Homo sapiens: one gene and its partners. The protein of the gene in region 2 purifies or fractionates together with the protein of the main gene of each other region. This does not show direct contact. Each region holds a gene or a part of one and is shown on either strand. Other genes may lie near its edges.

The links.
Region 1: the proteins of NUP98 (region 2) and KPNA2 purify together in Homo sapiens (affinity purification with western blotting, with the first as the bait; 2 studies listed by BioGRID). This does not show direct contact.
Region 3: the proteins of NUP98 (region 2) and NUP43 purify together in Homo sapiens (affinity purification with mass spectrometry; 6 studies listed by BioGRID and IntAct, with this or other methods). This does not show direct contact.

Annotation. Positions count from the first base shown.
Region 1 is NC_000017.11:68,038,696-68,045,734, forward strand, and holds part of KPNA2 (importin subunit alpha-1), read left to right. Parts: intron 1-1,982; coding exon 1,983-2,071; intron 2,072-3,389; coding exon 3,390-3,658; intron 3,659-4,209; coding exon 4,210-4,304; intron 4,305-4,404; coding exon 4,405-4,668; intron 4,669-5,142; coding exon 5,143-5,376; intron 5,377-5,625; coding exon 5,626-5,808; intron 5,809-7,039.
Region 2 is NC_000011.10:3,787,549-3,794,587, reverse strand, and holds part of NUP98 (nuclear pore complex protein Nup98-Nup96 isoform 1 precursor), read left to right. Parts: intron 1-7,039. UniProt on the Homo sapiens protein: Plays a role in the nuclear pore complex (NPC) assembly and/or maintenance. NUP98 and NUP96 are involved in the bidirectional transport across the NPC. May anchor NUP153 and TPR to the NPC.
Region 3 is NC_000006.12:149,736,530-149,743,568, reverse strand, and holds part of NUP43 (nucleoporin Nup43), read left to right. Parts: intron 1-998; coding exon 999-1,179; intron 1,180-4,790; coding exon 4,791-4,926; intron 4,927-6,946; coding exon 6,947-7,039. UniProt on the Homo sapiens protein: Component of the Nup107-160 subcomplex of the nuclear pore complex (NPC). The Nup107-160 subcomplex is required for the assembly of a functional NPC.

The sequences.
Region 1 (7,039 bases), on a different chromosome or scaffold from region 2:
TCTCAAGGAAAAAAATAAAAATAAAATAAATCCATACTCCAGCTGGGCATGGTGGTTCATGCCTGTAATTCCAACACTTTGGGAAGCTGAAATGGGAGGATCACTGGAGGCCAGGAGTTTGAGCCCAGCCTAGGCAACATAGGAAGACCTCGTCTCTATAAAAAGTAAAGTTAGCTGGGTGTGGTGGCGCCGGCCTTTAGTCCTAGGTATTCAGGGGGCTGAGACAGAAGAATCACTTGAGCCCGGGATTTTGAGGCTGCAGTGAGCTGTGATTGCACCACTGCACCCCATGCTGGGTGACAGTGAGACCCTGTCTCTAAGAAATCCCTACTCTATGAAGGCCTTCCATAAAGTAGACTTAACTTAGATTTTCAAATTTATCTTTCATCTGGGCCCTTTCCTACATGTTTTTCTCACAATATGCTTCCTTTTTTTTTTGTTTTGAGACAAAACCTTGGTTTGTTGCCCAGGCTGGAGTGCAGTGGTACGATCTTGGCTGACTGCAGCCTCCGTCTCCTGGGTTCAAGTGACTCTCCTGCCTCAGCCTCCCAAGTAGCTGGGATCACAGGGGATCACCACGATGTCTAGCTAATTTTTGCATTTTTAGTAGACACGGGGATTCACCGTGTTTCCCAGTCTGGTCTCGAACTCCTGACCTCAGGTGATCCACCCGCCTCGGCCTCCCAAAGTGCTGGGATTACAGGCGCGAGCCACTTCGCCCAGCCAAACATAAACCATTTATATTTGCAGCAACACTTAACCGTGGAAATATGTAGATTATAAAATTAGATATGAAAATCCTCGGCCGGGTGTGGTGGCTCACACCTGTAATCCCATTACTTTGGGAGGCCGAGGCAGGTGGATCACCTGAGGTCGGGAGTTTGAGACCAGCCTGACCAACATGGAGAAACTCCATCTCTACTAAAAATACAAAATTAGCTGGGCATCGTGGCGCATGCCTGTAATCCCAGCTACTCAGGAGGCTGTGGCAGGAGAATCGCTTGAACCCGGGAGGTGGAGGCGGTGGTGAGCCGAGATCACGCCATTGCACTCCAGCCTGGGCAAGAAGAGCAAAACTCTGTCTCCAAAAAAAAAAGTCGGGCATGGTAGCTCATGCCTGTAATTCCAGCACTTTGGGAGGCTGAGGCAGGTGGATCACCTGAGGTTGGCAGTTCGAGACCAGCCTGACCAACATGGAGAAACCCCGTCTCTACTAAAAATACAAAAAAAAAAAATTAGCCAGGCATGGTGGCGCATGCCTATAATCTCAGGTACTTGGGAGGCTGAGGCAGGAGAATCGCTTGAACCCAGGAGGCGGAGGTGGTGGTGAGCCAAGATCATGCCACTGCACTCCAGCCTGGGGATTGAGTGAAACTCCGTCTCAAAAAAAAAAAGAAAAGAAAATCCTCAGAACGTTGCCTATGACTTCATGTCTTTCTCCCTCAAAGTATATCTGAATGCAAGTGATTGAGACTAACGTAGAAATAATCTTCAGTCTGCTCTGATTCTTGATTTTTGAGACAAGGTCTTGTATGGCGACAGGCAAACACCACCATGCCTGGATATTTTTTTTTTTTTTTTTTTTTTGTTGGGAGGTCTCACTGTGTTGCTCAGGCTGGTCTCACCTGAGCTCAAGCCATCCTCCCTCCTGAGCCTCCCAAAGTGCTAGGCTTACAGGTGTGAGCCACCATGCCTGTCCTTCTCGTTCATTTTTTAAAATTGTTCAAAGCTGCCTTTTTTAGCGACAAAACACTTGGATACTCCATAACTTGAGACTCCAGTGAGTCCATGACAACAAGTTTGGAAACTGTTCTACATATAAAATAATGAATATTTAACAGGCAAAATTAAATGTAGGGCTAAATATTTAGTAGCTGGCTATAAGCCTAACGATGTTTACACTTGCCTTCACAAGTAAGTGTGGATTTTATTGTTTGTATTTAATCTTAATGATAATGTGCAAACTTTCACTTTTCTTCTAGGGCACTGTAAATTGGTCTGTTGATGACATTGTCAAAGGCATAAATAGCAGCAATGTGGAAAATCAGCTCCAAGCTACTCAAGCTGCCAGGTAAGTCTTGTCTGCGATAGCATGGGTAGCCTAAGAAATTTGTGTTTTTAGATTTTTTTTTGGGGGGTGGGGCAGGAAGGGACAGACAGATAGTACAAGGAAAGATTAGGCCAGCCAGCCATAAGCCAAATAGTATTTTTTATTTATTAATTTTTTTGAGAGGGGAGGCCTTGCTATTTTGCCCAGGCTGGCCTGGAATGCCTGGGTTCAAGCAGTCCTCTGACCTCAGCCTCCTGAAGTGCTGGGATCACAGGTGTGTGCCATTGCACCTGCCCATAAAGTTTTTACCAAAGTAATGTTTCAAGTCACTGGCAGGGGAAGGAAGAAATAAATAGTAAGTGGGATTGAGACATGCATTTAGAATGATAGATCCATTTAGGAGATAAGTATAATTTGACCTTTACCTCCCACTATACGTGGATATTTATGATATAATAGAAAGGATTAATAAGTTCTATAGCTTGACAGTGTGCAGAAGAAAAATTTCAATGGTAAATTATCATTAAAAAGTTCTAGGCTGGGTGCTGTGGCTCATTCCTGTAATCCCAGCACTTTGGGAGGCCAAGGGGTCGGTTACTTGAGCCCAGGAGTTTGAGACCAGCCTGGGCAACATGGTGAGAGCCAGTTTCTACAAAAGAAATTATTAGCTGGGTGTGGTGGCACATGCCTGTAATCTCACGTGTTTGGGAGGCTCAGGCACAATAATCACTTGAACCCAGCAGGCGGAGGTTGCAGTGAGCTGAGATCTTGCCACTGCATTCCAGCATGGCGACAGAGCAAGACTCTGTCTCAAAAAATAAATAAATAAAATAACTTGGGTGTGGCGGTGCACACTTGTCGTCCCAGCTACTAAGGAGGCTGAGGTGGGAGGATCACTTGAGCCCAGGAGGTCGAGGCTGCAGTGAGCTGTGATCGTGGCACTGCACTCTAGCCTGAGTGGAGTGAGATCCTATTTCAAAAAAACAAAATGTGCTTAACCACAACTATCAGAACAAATTCAGTGAGAGTATAACCCTGTCAGAATGTGAAAAGTTTTTTTAAAAAGTGACAAGATCTGGAGTAGATTTCTGCAGGGATGGAAAGGAGGGTAATCTACATTAATTTCTGGAAAAATGGTAGTTAATTATACCGCATACATAGCACCATACAAGTAATCTGTTCAGCTTCTCTTAGGTTCCAGAATGTCTCAGCATTTAGTGATTTACTTAAAAGGTTGTCTGAAGTTCTAAACTCTTGAATTGCATTTTATATTGGTTTTTACACAAACTCCTTTTGTTAATCACTGTCAACTTTTATTTCTCTTTTTGTTCCCCTTTAGGAAACTACTTTCCAGAGAAAAACAGCCCCCCATAGACAACATAATCCGGGCTGGTTTGATTCCGAAATTTGTGTCCTTCTTGGGCAGAACTGATTGTAGTCCCATTCAGTTTGAATCTGCTTGGGCACTCACTAACATTGCTTCTGGGACATCAGAACAAACCAAGGCTGTGGTAGATGGAGGTGCCATCCCAGCATTCATTTCTCTGTTGGCATCTCCCCATGCTCACATCAGTGAACAAGCTGTCTGGGCTCTAGGAAACATTGCAGGTACTTGGACTTGAAGTTCTTTTGACTGAATGTATCTAATCGTAATTAGTTGGAAGAAAGGCCTTGTTATAAGTAATAGTGACTTTGTCAAGTTTTGAGCTTGCTTTCAAGCCCTTATTAGGAATGAAAGTGTCGTCTTTACAAAGGCAGCAGAGGGCCATCTAAGTAAGTTTGGGAGTTTTTGCTGGTGCATTCAGTCACTGAAAATTGATGGTGTTGGACAAGGTAATAAAATTAATCTTGCCTCGGCCGGGCATGGTGGCTCACGCCTGTAATCCCAGCACTTTGGGAGGCAGAGGCGGGTGGATCATGAGGTCAGGAGATTGAGACCATCCTGGCTAACACAGTGAAACCCCACCTCTACTAAAAATACAAAAAATTAGCCGGGCGTGGCGGCGGGCGCCTGAGGCTGAGGCAGGAGAATGGCTTGAACCCAGGAGGCGGAGCTTGCAGTGAGCCGAGATCGCGCCACTGCACTCCAGCCTGGGCGACAGAGAGAAACTCCGTCTCAAAAAAAAAAAAAAAAAAATTAATCTTGCCTTTTTTTTCAGGTGATGGCTCAGTGTTCCGAGACTTGGTTATTAAGTACGGTGCAGTTGACCCACTGTTGGCTCTCCTTGCAGTTCCTGATATGTCATCTTTAGCAGTAAGTTACTAACATGAGTAAAGTTACTCACTTCTTCATTCTAATTTCCCCCATCTTCTCAAAAGACAGAACCTCTCATTGCCTATTTTTTTTCCCCCAGTGTGGCTACTTACGTAATCTTACCTGGACACTTTCTAATCTTTGCCGCAACAAGAATCCTGCACCCCCGATAGATGCTGTTGAGCAGATTCTTCCTACCTTAGTTCGGCTCCTGCATCATGATGATCCAGAAGTATTAGCAGATACCTGCTGGGCTATTTCCTACCTTACTGATGGTCCAAATGAACGAATTGGCATGGTGGTGAAAACAGGAGTTGTGCCCCAACTTGTGAAGCTTCTAGGAGCTTCTGAATTGCCAATTGTGGTAAGTTATTTACTTGTAGATTAGGACATAAGTATAAGAAGCATGATCAGGGCTGGGCGTGGTAGTGGTGGCTCACACCTGTGTAATCCCAGCACTTTGGGAGACCAAGGCAGGTGGATCACCTGAGGTCAGGAGTTCGAGACCAGCCTGGCCAACATTGTGAAAGCCCATCTCTACTAAAAATACAAAGAAATTATCTGGACATGGTGGCACGTGTCTGTAATCTCAACTACTCGGGAGGCTAAGGCAGGAGAATTGCTTGAATCTGGGAGGCAGAGGCTGCAGTGACCCGAAATCGTGCCATTATACTCCAGTCTCTCAAAAAAAAAAAAAAAAGCATAATCAGTTGATAGTAATATTGAAATATTGCCTATTTCAGGCCATGATGGGCCTCTTGTTAAAACTTTTAGGGTATAGAATTTCTAAAGTGCTGGGGAAAAAATAACCAGCATCAACATATTTTTTTTTTTTCAGACTCCTGCCCTAAGAGCCATAGGGAATATTGTCACTGGTACAGATGAACAGACTCAGGTTGTGATTGATGCAGGAGCACTCGCCGTCTTTCCCAGCCTGCTCACCAACCCCAAAACTAACATTCAGAAGGAAGCTACGTGGACAATGTCAAACATCACAGCCGGCCGCCAGGACCAGATACAGCAAGTTGTGAATCATGGATTAGTCCCATTCCTTGTCAGTGTTCTCTCTAAGGTAACGAAGTCTTAGGATTTAATCAAGTCATTTTTAGTATTTATAGAAAGCTGTGCTTGATAAGCTTCTTCACGTGCAAGAATCTTGGGTTCTACTAGGAGTCCTTTGCTGAACAATACCCAGTAACCCCTTTTACTTAAGGTTGGATAGAACCTTGGTACTTTCAGTCATTGTTTTTGTGAAAAAGTACTCTTGGAATCTTATTTGTGCAACTGTTCTGAAATAAAACCATTTCCTTATGTTTAATAGGCAGATTTTAAGACACAAAAGGAAGCTGTGTGGGCCGTGACCAACTATACCAGTGGTGGAACAGTTGAACAGATTGTGTACCTTGTTCACTGTGGCATAATAGAACCGTTGATGAACCTCTTAACTGCAAAAGATACCAAGATTATTCTGGTTATCCTGGATGCCATTTCAAATATCTTTCAGGTAAGTCCTATCAAGGTGGCTTTGTTTGAATTTGGACTTGATAATAATCAGTTTACTATTTAGACTTGGGGGAGGGCAGCTGTAAGTTTACTCACTAGTAAGCCACAGAATCAGAAAGCCTGTTTATGTGGCCACCCCTTTGATTAAAAATGAGGCAGGCATTATAAAAGATACAAAAGAGACGACAAGTGGATGGTGTGACCTGAATCGGAGTCAGGCGCTTATGTGGACTCATCACACCTGTTTACTTGGTTGATTTAATTTCCCAATTTCATACCGATTTTTGGTGACATTAAATTTGAATGACTTGGCCAGGCACGGTGGCTCATGCCTGTAATCACAGCACTTTGGAAGTCCGAGGTGGGTGGATCACCTGAGGTCAAGAGTTCGAGACCAGCCTGGCCAACATGGCGAAACCCTGTCTCTGCTAAAAATGCAAGAATTAGCCATGTGTGGTGGTGGGCGCCTATAATCCCAGCTACTCAGAAGGCTGAGGCAGGAGAATCGCTTGAACCCGGGAAGCGGAAGTTGCAGTGAGCCAAGTTTGTGTTATTGCACTCCAGCTTGGGCAAGAGTGAAACTGTCTTAAAAAAAAAAAAAAAAAAAGTTGAGCCTTCAATAATGGATGCTAGCGTATCTGTTACTGTGTATAAATAATTTGTCAGTATGTGGCCAGTATTTCTTCTTCCCCTCATCTAATCCCCTAAGTTATTTTGAAGCAAATCTGTTTTTTTCATCTATAGATATTTATGTATCTCTTTAAGGTTGAAAATTTAAAGGAAAACTAACCTACATACCATTCCATATGTCCAGTAAATCCTTAATACCAACACACATTCTGTTTGGGGACGTTTAGTTTAGCACTCCATAGGCCATCTTTGCCCTTAGACACCTTGACTACACCTTGTGATGACATAGGATGCTTTATGAAACAATACACCCCTGTTCCCATAGCAGACCAGTTGAACTGGAATGTAGTGTTGTTTTAAAAGTTGCCCGCATGATTTTGATACATAGAAAAGGTTGGGAGCTACTACTGATTGTAAGATCTTTGGCTCCAGTTGAAGTAGTGCTAAAAGCAGGTACAGATCCAATCACATTGAGTGTCAACAAAATATAAAATGGACATAAAACTATGATAGGCTTGATGAAGGAATTGTTAGGTGCTTATTTCTGCCTGACGTATCAATATTCAAATTATTGATGTTTTCTTCATTAAAATAAAACCAGA
Region 2 (7,039 bases):
TGGGAGGCCGAGGCGGGTGGATTGCCTGAGCTCAGGAGTTTGAGACCAGCCTGGGCAACATGGTGAAACCCCATCTGTACTTAAAAAAAAATATGAAAAATTAGCTGGGCGTGGCAGCATGCGCCCATTGCCCCAGCTACTCGGGAGGCTGAGGGAGGAGAATTGCTTGAACTCGGGAGGCGGAGGTTGCAGTGAGCCAAGATTGTGCCACTGCACTCCAGCCTGGGCGACAGCGAGACTCTGACTCAAGAAAAAAAGAAAAGAAACAAAACAAAACAGTATGTATTAGAGGCAAGGTAGGTAAACATTTCCTGAGAACTTGGTGCATTCTTTTTGTTTGAAATTGACCGTAAGTATTTGGCACAGTATGGCTCTAGAGAAAGGTTTCTCAGCTTTGGAACTTTGAGACTTTGGGCCAGATAATTATCGTGGGGGCTCTGTTGTATATTGTAGGATATTTAGCAACATTCCTACCTCTACCCATTAGATACCCATAACACATCCTCTGCAGGTTGTAACGATCAGGAATGTCTGAAGAAATTGTCAGAATTGCCCTTGATTGAGACTACTACTTTAGTGAAAATATTTCACATGTATTTATTTATTTATTTATTTTTTGAGACAGAGTTTCGCTCTTGTTGCCCCGGCTGGAGTGCAATGATGTGATCTTGGCTCACCGCAACCTCCGCCTCGTGGGTTCAAGCAATTCTCTTGCCTCAGCCTCCCGAGTAGCTGGATTACAGGTGCGTGCCACCACACCCAGCTAATTTTGTATTTTTAGTAGAGACAGGCTTTCACCATGTTGGCCAGGCTGATCTGGAACTCGTGACCTCAAGCAATCCACCCGCTTTGGCCTCCCAAAGTGCTGGGATTACAGGCGTGAGCCACCATGCCCAGCCATAATTACCACATTGAGGAATTTGTACTTAATTCAGTGTAATGGGAAATACTTGCAGTTTTTTTTAGTAAGGAAAGAAAAATTCTTAAAAATATAGTGGTAGCTGGCCGGGTGTGGTGGCTCACACCTGTAATCCAGCACTTTGGGAGGCTGAAGCGGGTGGATCACAAGGTTAGGAGTTTGAGACCATCCTGGCTAATATGGTGAAACCCTGAATCTACTAAAAATAGAAAAATTAGTTGGGCACAGTGACACGCACCTGTAGTCCCAGCTACTGGGAGGCTGAGGCAGAGAATCGCTTGAACCCAGGAGGCAGAGGTTGCAGTGAGCGCAGATTGCACCACTGTGCTTCATCCTGGGTGACAGAGCAAGACTCCATATCATAAAAAGAAGACCTCTAAATGTACCAGTCTTTGCATTCTGACATATATTATGTTGTTTTGTTTGAAGTATGTGAAGAAAATCTAGCCTCATACAGATACATAGTTGGAAAAGAGAGGAGTATTTTAATGGCCTTTTCAGATAATTCTAACTGCTCTTTGACACTACAGTCAAACCTTTTTATTTGTTTGTTTTTTTGAGACGGAGTCGTGCTCTGTCGCCCAAGTCGGAGTGCAGTGGCGCTATCTCAGCGTACTCCAACCTCCGCCTCCCAGGTTCAAGCAATTCTCCTGCCTCAGCCTCCTGAGTTGCTGGGACTACAGGTGCACATCACCACGCTGGGCTAATTTTTTGTATTTTTAGTAGAGACGGGGTTTCGCCATGTTGGGTTTGAACTCCTGGCCTCAAGTGATCCGCCTGCCTTGGCCTCCCAAAGTGCTGGGATTTCAGACGTGAGCCACCGTGCCCGGCCTCAAACCTTTTTAAAGGTTCATTACAGTATGGAATCTGAAACTGTGTCATTGAACTTTTGTATTCTGTTGTATTAAAAACCATTGGTCTGTGTTGTACTTTGAATAGACCTTTACACTTCTGTGATTTTATAACATGATGCATGTTGATTTTGAAATTATTGATTTACTGAGTTATGCAGATCTTCTTTTTTTGTTGTTTTTTTGTTTGTTTGTTTCTTTGTTTTTGAGACAGAGTCTTGCTTTGTCACCCAGGCTGGAGTGTTGTGGCACAATCTTGGCTCACTGTAACCTCTGCATTCCGGGTTCAGGTGATTCTCATGCCTCAGCCTCCTGAGTAGCTGGGACTACAGGTGTGTACCACCACATCTGGCTAATTTTTGTATTTTTTGTAGAGACGGGGTTTCAACATGTTGACCATGGCTGGTCTGGAACTCCTGACATCAAGTGATCTTCCCGTCTCGGCCTCCTAAAGAGCTGGCATTACAGGCATGAGCCCCATAGGCCTGGCCCAGATATTCCAGATGTTGACAAATTTAATTATACAGTTGTTTCTGTTTCCACCCATCTCATCAGATAAGTCTTTTTAAGAATTGAGAAGCTTATGACCTGATAGTGGTGAATACATGTTTTTTTTTTTTTTTTTTTTTTTTTTTTTTTGAGATGGAGTTTCACTCTGTCACCTGGGCTGGAGTGCAGTGGCACGATCTCGGCTTATTGCAAGCTCCACTTCCCGGGTTCACGCCATTCTCCTGCCTCATCCTCCCGAGTAGCTGGGAATACAGGGGCGTGCCACCATGCCCGGCTAATTTTTTGTATTTTTAGTAGAGATGGGGTTTCACCGTGTTAGCCAGGAAGGTCTCGATCTCCTGACCTCGTGATCCGCTCACCTCCGCCTCCCAAAGTCCTGGGATTACAGGCATGAGCCGCTGCGCCCAGCCGAATGCATGTTTTTGTAGTTGTAATTTTTGTATCAAAATTTTTTTTTTTTTTTTTTTAGATGTAGTCTCACTCTGTCGCCTAGGCTGGAGTGCAGTGTCGTGATCTCGGCTCACTGTAACCTCGCCTCCTGGGTTCAAGCAATTCTCCTGCCTCAGCCTCCTGAGTAGCTGGGATTACAGGCAGGTGCCACCACACATGGCTAATTTTTGTATTTTTAGCAGAGACAGGGTTTCATCATGTTGGTCAGGCTGGTCTTCAACTCCTGACCTCGTGATCTGTCTGCCTCGGTCTCCCGAAATGCTGGGATTATAGGCATGAGCCACCATGCCCAGCCTTTCTTTTTTTTTTTTTTTTTTTTTTTTTGAGACGAGGTCTCGGTCTTTCCCCCAGGCTGGAGTACAATGGTGGGATCTCAACTCACTGCAACCTCCGCCTTCTGGGTTCCACTGATTCTCCTGTCTCCGCCTCCCAAGTAGCTGGGATTACAGGCGTCCACCACCATGCCTGGCTAATTTTTTGTATTTTTAGTAGAGATGAGGTTTCACCATGTTGGCCAGGCTGGTTTTGAACTGCTGACTTCAAGTGATCCACCTGCCTCGGCCTCCCAAACTGCTAGGATTACAGGTGTGAGCCACCATGCCCAGCCAGTACCAAATCTTAATAACCATAGTTTGTCAATCATTCTTTGAAATTAAAATGGTGGGCGGGGCGCAGTGGCTCACGCCTGTAATCCCAGCACTTTGGGAGGCTGAGGGGGGCGGATCACAAGGTCAGGAGATCGAGACCATCCTGGCTAACACGGTGAAAACCCGTCTCTACTAAAAATACAAAAAATTAGCTGGGCGTGGTGGCGGGCGCCTGTAATCCCAGTTACTCGGAAGGCTGACGCAGGAGAATGTCGTGAACCTGGGAGGCAGAGCTTGCAGTCAGCCGAGATTGCGTCACTTCACTCCAGCCTGGGCAACAGAGCCAGACTCTGTCTCAAAAAAAAAAAAAAATTAAAATGGTGTTCCATGAGAAAAACAACTACATTTAGCTTTCAAAAGTAATTACAGGTGGTTTGCCCCTTGATATCCTTTGTATTTCAGTAAGCAGAAGTTTTTGAGTATTTCCCAATACTGAATTAAAAAGAATTGTGCTGTAGTGTTGAGAAATAATACAACTAATAATTTTTGCTGCTTCATTAAGGACCCTTTTAAGTGAAAGTGGAATTTTTTATATTGTAAATGGGTGACAGTGAAGAATTCAGTGAGTGTTAGTTCAGCACCATTTGGGGTTGTTGCTTTGATTCATGCTGAGTTCCCAGCATTTTTGCACACCATTGATTTTGCACATCAGCACAGAGGTCAGAACAGTAAAGAAAAAGGGCAAAGTGTCTTAGTTTTATTGTGAAAATGGTTTTGATTTCATTGAACCCCTGGAAGAAGTGTTGGGGACTTTTAGGGGTCTTTGGGTCACACTTTGAGAACCACTAATCTAGAACAATATTTCACATTGGTTCATAGAGCCCTAAGCTGCTTCATAGGGCAGAGCTGGTGGGGTTCTACTGTACCTACTCCCTCTTCACTTCAGCCAGAGCAGCTTCTGCTTATGTCTGTTTTATATGTCGGGTTTCATGGCTAAAAAATATTTGAAAATCATTAGTCAAGGGGAAAAGAATTGAGCACCTGAATTAGGGCTGGTCTGTTCGTGAAGGGAACAGTTCATCCTCAGTAAATGTTACAGTCACTCATCACTTCACATCTTTAATTTTACTTCGTTTGACACAGAGCTTACTAGTATTTGCACACTCAACCTTCTTGATAGGTAAATGGGGCTGTGTGCCGTGGCTCACGCCTGTAATGCTAGCACTTTGGGAGGCTGAGGTGGGCGGATCACGAGGTCGGAAGATCGAGACCATCCTGGCCAACTTGGTGAAACCCCATGTCTACTAAAATACAAAAAATTAACCCGGTATAGTGGTGGGTGCCTGTAGTCCCATCTTCTCGAGAGGCTGAGGCAGGGAAATCGCTTGAACCCAGGAGGCAGAGGTTGCAGTGAGCTGAGATCATGCCACTGCACTGCACTCCAGCCTGGCAACAGAGCAAGACTGTCTCAAAAAAATAAATAAATAAAAAATAAGTAAATGGGCCTGGCACAGGGGCTCACCTATAATCCCTGCACTTTAGGAGGCCAAAGCAGGAAGATGGCTTGAGTCCAGGAGTTAGAGACCAGCCTGGGCAACATAGTGGCACATGCCTGTGGTCTCAGCTTTTTGGGAGGCTAAAGTGGGAGGATCAGTTGAACCCAGGAGGTCCAGGCTGCAGTGAGCCATGATCATGCCACTGCATTCCAGCCTGGGCAACAGAGTGAGACCTTGTCTCAAAACAAAAACCAAAAAAAAAAAAAAAAAAAAGAAATAGGTAAATGAATTTGTAAATTAAAAAGATGGATAGTTGGGAATAAAGACAGAGATGTGAGATAGATGGAAGAGGTTGAATGATCATAGTAATCTCAATATATTGTGTTTGTGCAGGGATGGGATTTGTTTTTGTTTGCAGTGGTGCTTTATGCTTGTGCTGAGTGATCAGTGGATGACACTTAAGCATTGAGAAATAAGAAATTATGGCATTCTAGCTAGCCATTGAACCAAAGTTTAGAGTGAGGGGACATTTATTATGCTTTTTAAATTATAAATACCTGTAAAATACCTGTTGAAAAATAAACAAAATGCTGCTTTTGAGGAGCTCTAGTTTGAGGCAGCTTTGTCCTCCTACCAGTCTTTTGGTGTAGGCTGTACAATCCCTATTGTTCAGATGTAGAAATTGAGGTCTGAGAGATTGAATATTATGACTTACAGTAGCAAGTGGCAGAGGAATTTTTTATTTTTTTAACTTTTTATTTTGAATTAACTTTAGATTTTAAGAGTCAATGATGGTAACTGACAGGTTTTTTTTTGGTTGTTTTTTTGAGATGGAGTTTCACTGTTGTTATCCAGGCTGGAGTGCAGTGGCACGATCTCGGCTCACTGCAATCTCTGCCTCCTGGGTTCAAGCGATTCTCCTGCCTCAGCCTCCCGAATAGCTGGGATGACAGGCATGCGTCACGACAACTGGCTAATTATGTATTTTTTAGTAGAGACGGGGTTTCTCCTTGCTTCTCAGGCTGGTCTTGAACTCCCGACCTCAGGTGATCCGCCCACTTTGGGCCTCCCAAAATGGTGCGATTACATGCGTGAGCCACCGTGCCCAGCCTTATACAGTGATTCTTAATAGTTAGGTATATATCCTTTCACTTTTAGAAATTTATTTATTTATTTATTTTTGGAGACAGAATTTCACTCTTGTCACCCAGGCTGTAGTGCAGTGGCGCAATCTGGGCTCACAGCAACCTCCACCTCCCAGGTTCAAGCAGTTCTCCTGCCTCAGCCTCCTGAGTAGCTGGGATTACAGGCATGTAGGCTAATTTTTGTATTAGTAGAGACAGGGGGTTTCACCATGTAGGCCAGGCTGGGCTCGAACTCCTGAGCTCAGGTGATCCACCAGCCTTGGCCTCCCAAAGTGTTGGGATTGCAGGTGTGAGCCACCGCGCCTAGCCGAGTGACAGTTTTAAATACAGATGTCTCACACCAAAGCTAATATACTCTTCACTCTAAAATGATTAGGGTTATGTTAAGGGGATGAAAAAAATGCTGCTCAGTGCTATTAGGAAGGAGCTTATGTAAGATGCTATGGACTATTTAAAATTAATTTACACCCAGTGAGCAAAGTCAAGACATTTTTTTTACCCAGAGCAGCAGACAGGTAAAACACTCAGGTGGCAGGTATAATAACAAATATATTGCATAACTAAAAGCAGCTGAGAGACACTAGTTTACGTAATCGGGGTTGGAAAGGAAGAGGGGAAGTAAAGTGTTTTATTTTTTTTGAGATGGACTCTGGCTCCGTCGCCAGGCTGGAGTGCAGTGGCCCGATCTCGGCTCACTGCAACCTCCGCCTCCTGGATTCAAGTGATTCTCCTGCCTCAGCCTCCCAAGTAGCTGGGACTAGAGGCACACACCACCATGCCCAGCTAATTTTTGTATTTTCAGTAGAGACGGGGTTTCACCATGTTGGCCAGGATGGTCTCGATCTCTTGACCTCGTGATCTGCCCGCCTCTGCTTCCCGGAGTGCTGGGATTACAGACATGAGCCACCGTGCCCGGCCTTTAAAGTGTTTTTATACTAATAAAGAGTTTAAGGGTGTGCGGCAGTCTTGTGAAAGCAGGTGAGGCTTGAGCAACAATTTTTAGGAAGAAAAGGAGATACGATTTTTAGAGAGGGTATGATGTTCTTTTTTTTTGTTTGAGACAGCGTCTTGCTCTGTTACC
Region 3 (7,039 bases), on a different chromosome or scaffold from region 2:
CACTGGAGTGCAGTGGCGCAGTCTCGGCTCACCGCAGCCTCCACCTTCTGAGTTCAAGTGATTCTCCTGCCTCAGCCTCCCAAGTAGCTGGGATTACAGGCACGTGCCACCACGCCCGGCTAATTTTATATTTTTAGTAGAGACGGGGTTTCTCCATGTTGGTCAGGCTGATCTCACCTGACCTCAGGTGATCAGCCCTCTTCGGCCTCCCAAAGTGCTGGGATTACAGGTGTGAGCCACCGCGCCCAGCCAAAGGTAACCTTTTCTAATAGACATGCCTAGTTAATATAAGTCCCAGTTCATGTTAAGGGTTTTTTTGAGTCATTTAGAAAAAGCTATAGAGATTAATATTTTATTTATTTTATTTTATTTTATTTATTTATTTTTTTTTTTGAGACAGAGTCTCTCTCTGTCACCCAGGCTGGAGTGCAGTGGTGCGATCTCTGCTCACTGCAACCTGCATCTCTCTGGTTCAAGCAATTCTCACACCTCAGCCTTTCAAGTAGCTGGGATTACAGGCGCGTGCCACCACACCTAGCAAATTTTTGTATTTTTAGTAGAGACGGGATTTTGCCATATTGGCCAGGCTGGTCTCGAACCCCTGATCTCAGATGATCTGCCTGCCTTGGCCTCCCAAAGTGCTAGGATTACAGGCATGAGCGACAGCCGTGGGCCAGATATGTATATTTTAGATGTAGGTTAATTCCCATAAGAATACAAAGAGTTGCCTTTGAACATCCAACTGCTTGATCCCTAAAAGTCATTACTGTAGTTTGAGATAAATGTGGGGCATTATTAAACAATATTCCTTTTGTATCTAATTCAGTGTATATAGAACTTTGATGGCAGTAGTTTCTAGATTTCATTATTCTAAAGGAAAAAGGAGAGATTTATTCTTGTAGAAGGGTGTGAGTCAGAATTTAAAGATACTCTTGTTGGGAAGAAGTGCTAATTCCTTAGTACTTTGCTTTAATAGTATCCTCATTTCTGATGCCTAGACTCTGTCAGTCAACCAGCAGTGGACTACAGCTCACTACCACACAGGCCCTGGCAGTCCTTCCTATAGCAGTGCACCATGTACAGGTGTTGTGTGCAACAACCCAGAAATCGTTACAGTTGGAGAGGATGGTCGAATAAATCTCTTCAGAGCTGATCACAAGGAAGCTGTAAGAACCATAGGTAAGAAAAATCCCAGCCTGGCCAACATGGCGAAACCTAGTCTCTTCTAAAAATACAAAAGTTAGGCTGGGTGTGGTGGCTCACCCCGGCAATTGCAGCACTTTGGGAGGCCGAGGCAGGTGGATCACCTGAGGTCGGGAGTCCGAGACCAGCCTGACCAACATGGAGAAACACCGTCTCTACTAAAACTACAGAATTTGCTGGGCATGGTGGCACATGCCTGTAATCCCAGCTACTTGGGAGGCTGAGGCAGGAGAATCGCTTGAACCTGGGAGGCGGAGGTTGCAGTGAGCAGAGATCGCACCATTGCACTCCAGCCAGGGCAACAAAAGTGAAACTCTGTTTAAAAAAAAAAAAAGAAAAGTTAGCCAGGCGTGGTGGCGCATGCCTGTAATCCCAGCTACTCAGGAGGCTGAGGCAGGAGAATCGCTTGAACCTGAGAGGTGGAGGTTGTGGTGAGCTATGATGGCACTCTGCAGTCCCACCTGGGTGACAGAGGGAGACCCTGTTTCAAAAAAAGAAAAATCATTGTACTCCTTTCATCCATCAGAGTAATTGAGCACTTACCATATACTAAGTAAATACTGCCAGGCACGGTGGCTCATGCCTGTTACCCCAGCACTTTGGGAGGGTGATGCAGGCGGATCACAAGGTCAAGCGATCAAGATCATCCTGGCCAACGTGGTGAAAATCCGTCTCTACTGAAAATAACAAAAATAAGCTGGGTGAGGTGGTGTGCATCTGTAGTCCCAGCTACTCGGGAGGCTGAGGCAGGAGAATCACTTAAACCCGGGAGGCAGAGGTTGCAGTGAGCCAAGATTACACCACTGCACGCTAGCCTTGTGACAGAGAGAGACTTCATCTAAAAAAAAAAAGTAAACACAATGTTAAGTGATGGAGGGATGTAAAAATATATGGCCGGGTACAGTGGCTGACGCCTATAATCCCAGCACCTTAGGAGGCAAAGGCGAGCAGATCATTTGAGGCCAAGAGTTTGAGACCAGCCTGACCAATATTGCAAAACCCCATCTCTACTAAAAATACAAAAATTAGCTGGGCATGGTGGCACAGGCCTGTAATCCCAGCTGCTTGGGAGGCTGAGGCATGAGAATCGCTTGAACCTGAGAGACTGAGAGGCTGCAGTGAGCCGAGATCATGCCACCGCACTCCAGCCTGGGTGACAGAGCAAGACTCTGTCTCAAAAAAATATAAAATATATGTACACATGTGCACACACAACGCAAGGCAGGATCCCTTTGTCAAGACAGTATGTTGATGAGACCAGTATGAATGACTGACTAGAGGAAACAGAAACCTTTTTTTTTTTGGTGAGAGGGCATTATCAGATAAAACATCTGGAAGCAGGTAGTAATTAATAGTTTTTCTAGGTTCTAGACCATAAGTAATACTAAAAGATGGCGTGCTAGACAAAGGGAATAGGCCAGAGGCAGGATAAAGACATTCAGAGAATGACAAAAAGTATAGTTTGACCCGACTTTAGATATTTATTTAGGAGAGATGAAAGATGAAGCAAGAGAGAAGTAAGCTGGGGCCAGATTGCAAAGAGTCTGTAATGCAAAATCACAGAAGTTACATCTTTTAGGTGGAAAACTAAGTGTATTGGTTCTGAACTATGCTTCAGCCAGACTTCTCTGAGGAAATTTTTTAACTGTCGACCACTCTAGACCTTTTAAATCAGAATCTCTAGGAATTGAGCCCATGAATCCATTTTGTATGTGTGTGTTTTGTTTGTTTGTTTGTTTAGATGGAGTCACGCTCTGTCACCAGGCTGGAGTGCAATGGCACGACCTCAGCTCACTGCAACCTCCACCTCCTGGGTTCACGCGATTCTCCAGCCTCAGCCTCCCGAGGAGCTGGGACTACAGGCGCACGCCACCACACCCACCTAATTTTTGTATTTTTAGTAGAGACAGGCTTTCAACATGTTGGCCAGGATGGTCTTGATTTCTTGACTTTGTCATTCGCCTGCCTCGGCCTCCCAAAGTGCTGGGATTACAGGCGTGAGCCACTGTACCTGGCCTTTTGTGTTGTTTATTATGATTTTCATTTCTGAGTTAAGTTGCATTACTTTTTTTTTTTTTTTTTTTTTTTTTGAGACAGGGTCTTGCTCTGTCACCCAGGCTGGAGTGCAGTGGCATGATCCCAGCTCATTGCAACCTCTGCCTCCCAGGTTCAAGCGATCCTCCCACCTCAGCCTTCCAGGGATGTGGGACTACAGATGCACACCACCATGCCCAGCTAATTTTTGTAGAAACGAGGTTTCACCATGTTGCCCAGGCTGGTGTCAAACTCCTGGGCTCAAGTGGTCTGCCCACCTCGGCCTCCCGAAGTGCTGAGATTACAGACATGACCCACTGCACTGGGCGACATTACTTATTTGTTAATTAATGACCATTGCCTGGTGGCAGTGTAGAGGAGTGGCACAAACTAAAGTCCATAAAGTATATGTTAAATTATGAGGCATAAGTTCTAAACACTAGGAAATCAACAAAAAGGACCATTATGACAATAAGGAGTGACTTCATGGAGAGGGCGAGAGTTGATGAGGGTGAAAATGAGTAGATTTGGGATGAGTCTGCAGAATAATACAAGGTTAGAATGAGCTCTGTAGGAAGCACTGGAGTTTGGCTCAATAGAATGGAAGTTCTAGGTCAGGGACTAGTGGGAAGTAAGATTGGGTTTAGAGGAGCTTGAACAACTCTCTCAGAAATGCAGGGTAACAATCTTAAGAGTTAAAAAGAAATGTATGAAAACTCAGCCTTCCATTTAGAAAACAGTTCAAGGCTGGGCCTGGTGGGTCATGCCTGTAATTCTAGCACTTTGGGAGGCTGAGTGAGGCGGATCACCTGAGCTCAGGAGTTCGAGACCAGCCTGGCCAACATGGTGAAACTCCGTCTCTACTAAAAATACAAAAATTAGCCAGGCATGGTGGCATGTACCTGTAATCCCAGGTACTAGAGAGGCCGAGGCAAGAGAATCGCTTGAACCTGGGAGGCGGAGGTTGTAGTGAGCCCAGAGTACGCCACTGCCCTCTAGCCTGGGTGACAGAGCGAGATCCATCTCAAAAAACAAAAAGAAAAAGAAAACAGTAGGCCAGGCGTGGTGGCTCAAGCCTGTAATCCCAGCATTTTGGGAGGCCGAGGCTGGTGGATCACCTGAGGTCGGGAGTTCGAGACCAGCCTGACCAACATGGAGAAACCCAGTCTCTACTAAACATACAAAATTAGCTGGGTGTGGTGGCACATTTCTAATCCCAGCTATTTGGGAGGCTGAGGCAGGAGAATAGCTTGAATCCGAGAGGTGGAGATTGCGGTGAGCCGAGATCGCGCCATTGCAGTCCAGCCTGGGCAACGAGCAAAAAAAAAAAAAAGAAACAGAAAACAGTTCAGATGTCCTGTGAGTAAATGTTTTTCCCATCCAAAGAGAATCCATTTAAACATATACATTAACCATGCATTTTTCTATAGAAATTTAAATTATAAGTTACTGGAAATTGTAATATATCAATCCATGAAAGGAGTGTGATTTAAGATTTTCTTGGGAAAAAAAGGGGACTCATTAACACATACTACCATTTTTTAAATTTTTAGACAATGCAGATAGTAGTACACTCCATGCTGTAACCTTTCTTCGAACTCCTGAGATTCTTACTGTAAATTCAATTGGACAGTTGAAAATATGGGATTTCAGACAACAAGGAAATGAGCCTTCTCAGATATTGTCACTGTAAGTGTTGATTTGTAATTTCAGTAATGTAATCCACAAATTAATGTGTTAGGTTGTTTATAGCTACTGGCTTTAAGCCATATTGAATTTTAATTGCATTTTAAGAGGGAGATCCCTGATTAAAATTTGGTAGAGCAAGCATAACTTGACGGGGTTGGTACTACTATGCTTCATTTAGTAATTATTTGTTATAGTGATTCAGAGCCTTTACTCTTTGAAGTTTGTATTATTTCATGGAGAACTTATTTCTGCTCTTTCAATGATTGTTTAATGGATAAAATATACTCCAGATGTAATGATTGGGGGAAAAATATAATTCCAAATATTTTTTCTGAGCAGAAATCCCCCTTTGTAGGTGTACAACGTTCTCTCGTAAGAAAATAGAATGTGTCACACTGAAAAAATAGTTACATAAACTAAGCATTAAATAAGATGATAAATAATATTTAGTATATAATTGATGTATGAGTTTTTAAATAATTTAACAAGTGGAAATGTGATTTGTACATCTTACCATCGGATTGTCTTTCATTCCATGTCTCCAAATTGAAGTGAAAATGAATAATTGTGGCCTTGAATTATTTCAAAATTGTACTATTTAGAAATATATCTAATTTAGTTCATTTTTTTTGGTATCATTAAGATTCAGCCAGGCTGGGCGTGGTTGCTCATGCTTGTAATCCCAGCACTTTGGGAGGCCGAGGCAGGCAGATCACTTGAGGTCAGGAGTTCAATACCAGCCTGGCCAACACAGTGAAACCCCGTCTCTACTAAAAATACAAAAACTAGCCAGGCATGGTGGCACGTGCCTATAGACCCCGCTACTCAGGAGGCTGAGGCAGGAGAATCACTTGAACCTGGGAGCCAGAGTTTGCAGGAGAATCACTTGAACCTGGGAGGCAGAGTTTGCAGGAGAATCACTTGAACCTGGGAGGCAGAGTTTGCAGTGAGCTAAGATCGTGCCATTGCACTCCAGCCTGGGCAACAAGAACAAAACTCTGTCTCAAATAAAAAAAAGATTCAGCCAGTAGCTCCAGCCACTAAGTTGACACTTAGTTACCATATAAAACATGTTTCTTGGCTGAGCATGGTGACTCATGCCTGTAATCCCAACATTTTGGAAGGATTATCTGCGGTGAGAAGTTTGAGACCAGCTAGGGCAACACAGTGAGACCCCATCTCTACCAAAATTTCTTAAAATAGCCTGGCACGGTAGCATGTGCCTGTAGTCCTAGCTACTTGGGAGGCTGAGGCAAAAGGCTCTTTTGAGCCCAGCTTGCAGCAAGCTGTAGATAGGCCATTGCACTGTAGCCTGGGTGACAAGACAAGACCCTGTCTCTCTTTTTTTTTTTTTTCTTTGAGACAGAGTCTTACTCTGTCACCCAGGCTGGAGTGCAGTGGCATGATCTTGGCTCACTGCAACTTCTGCCTACTGGGTTCAGGCGATTCTCATGCCTCAGCCTCCCAAGTAGCTGGAACTACAGGCATGTGCCACCATGCCTGGCTAGTTTTTGTATTTTTAGTAGAGATGGGGTTTCGCCATTTTGGCCTGGTTGGTCTTGAACCTCAAGTCATCCACCTGCCTTGGCCTCCCAAAGTGCTGGGATTACAGGTGTGAGCCACTGAGCCTGGTCTCTTAAAAAATAAACAAAAAAAAACAGGCTGGGCACGGTTACCAGTCATCCCAGCACTTTGGAAGGCCAGGGTGGCTAGATCACTGGAGCCTGGGAGTTTGAGACCAACCTGGGCAACATGGAGAAACCCCATCTCTACAAAAATACAAAAAGTTAACCAGGCATGATGGTACACACATGTACTCCCAGCAACTCAGGAGGCTGAGGTGGGAGGATACCTGAGCCCAGGGAGTTTGAGCCTACAGTAAGCAATGATTGCAGCGCTGCATTCCAGCCTGGGTAAGTGAGGCCTTGTCTCAAAACAAACAAAAAACGTGTTTCCTGTGTTACACAAAGATAAATTATACTTTATTTGATTTTGACGTCATTGTTATCTCCCACAAAAGGACTGGTGACCGAGTGCCACTCCACTGTGTTGATAGACATCCCAACCAACAGCATGTTGTAGCTACTGGTGGCCAAGATGGAATGTTGAGTAT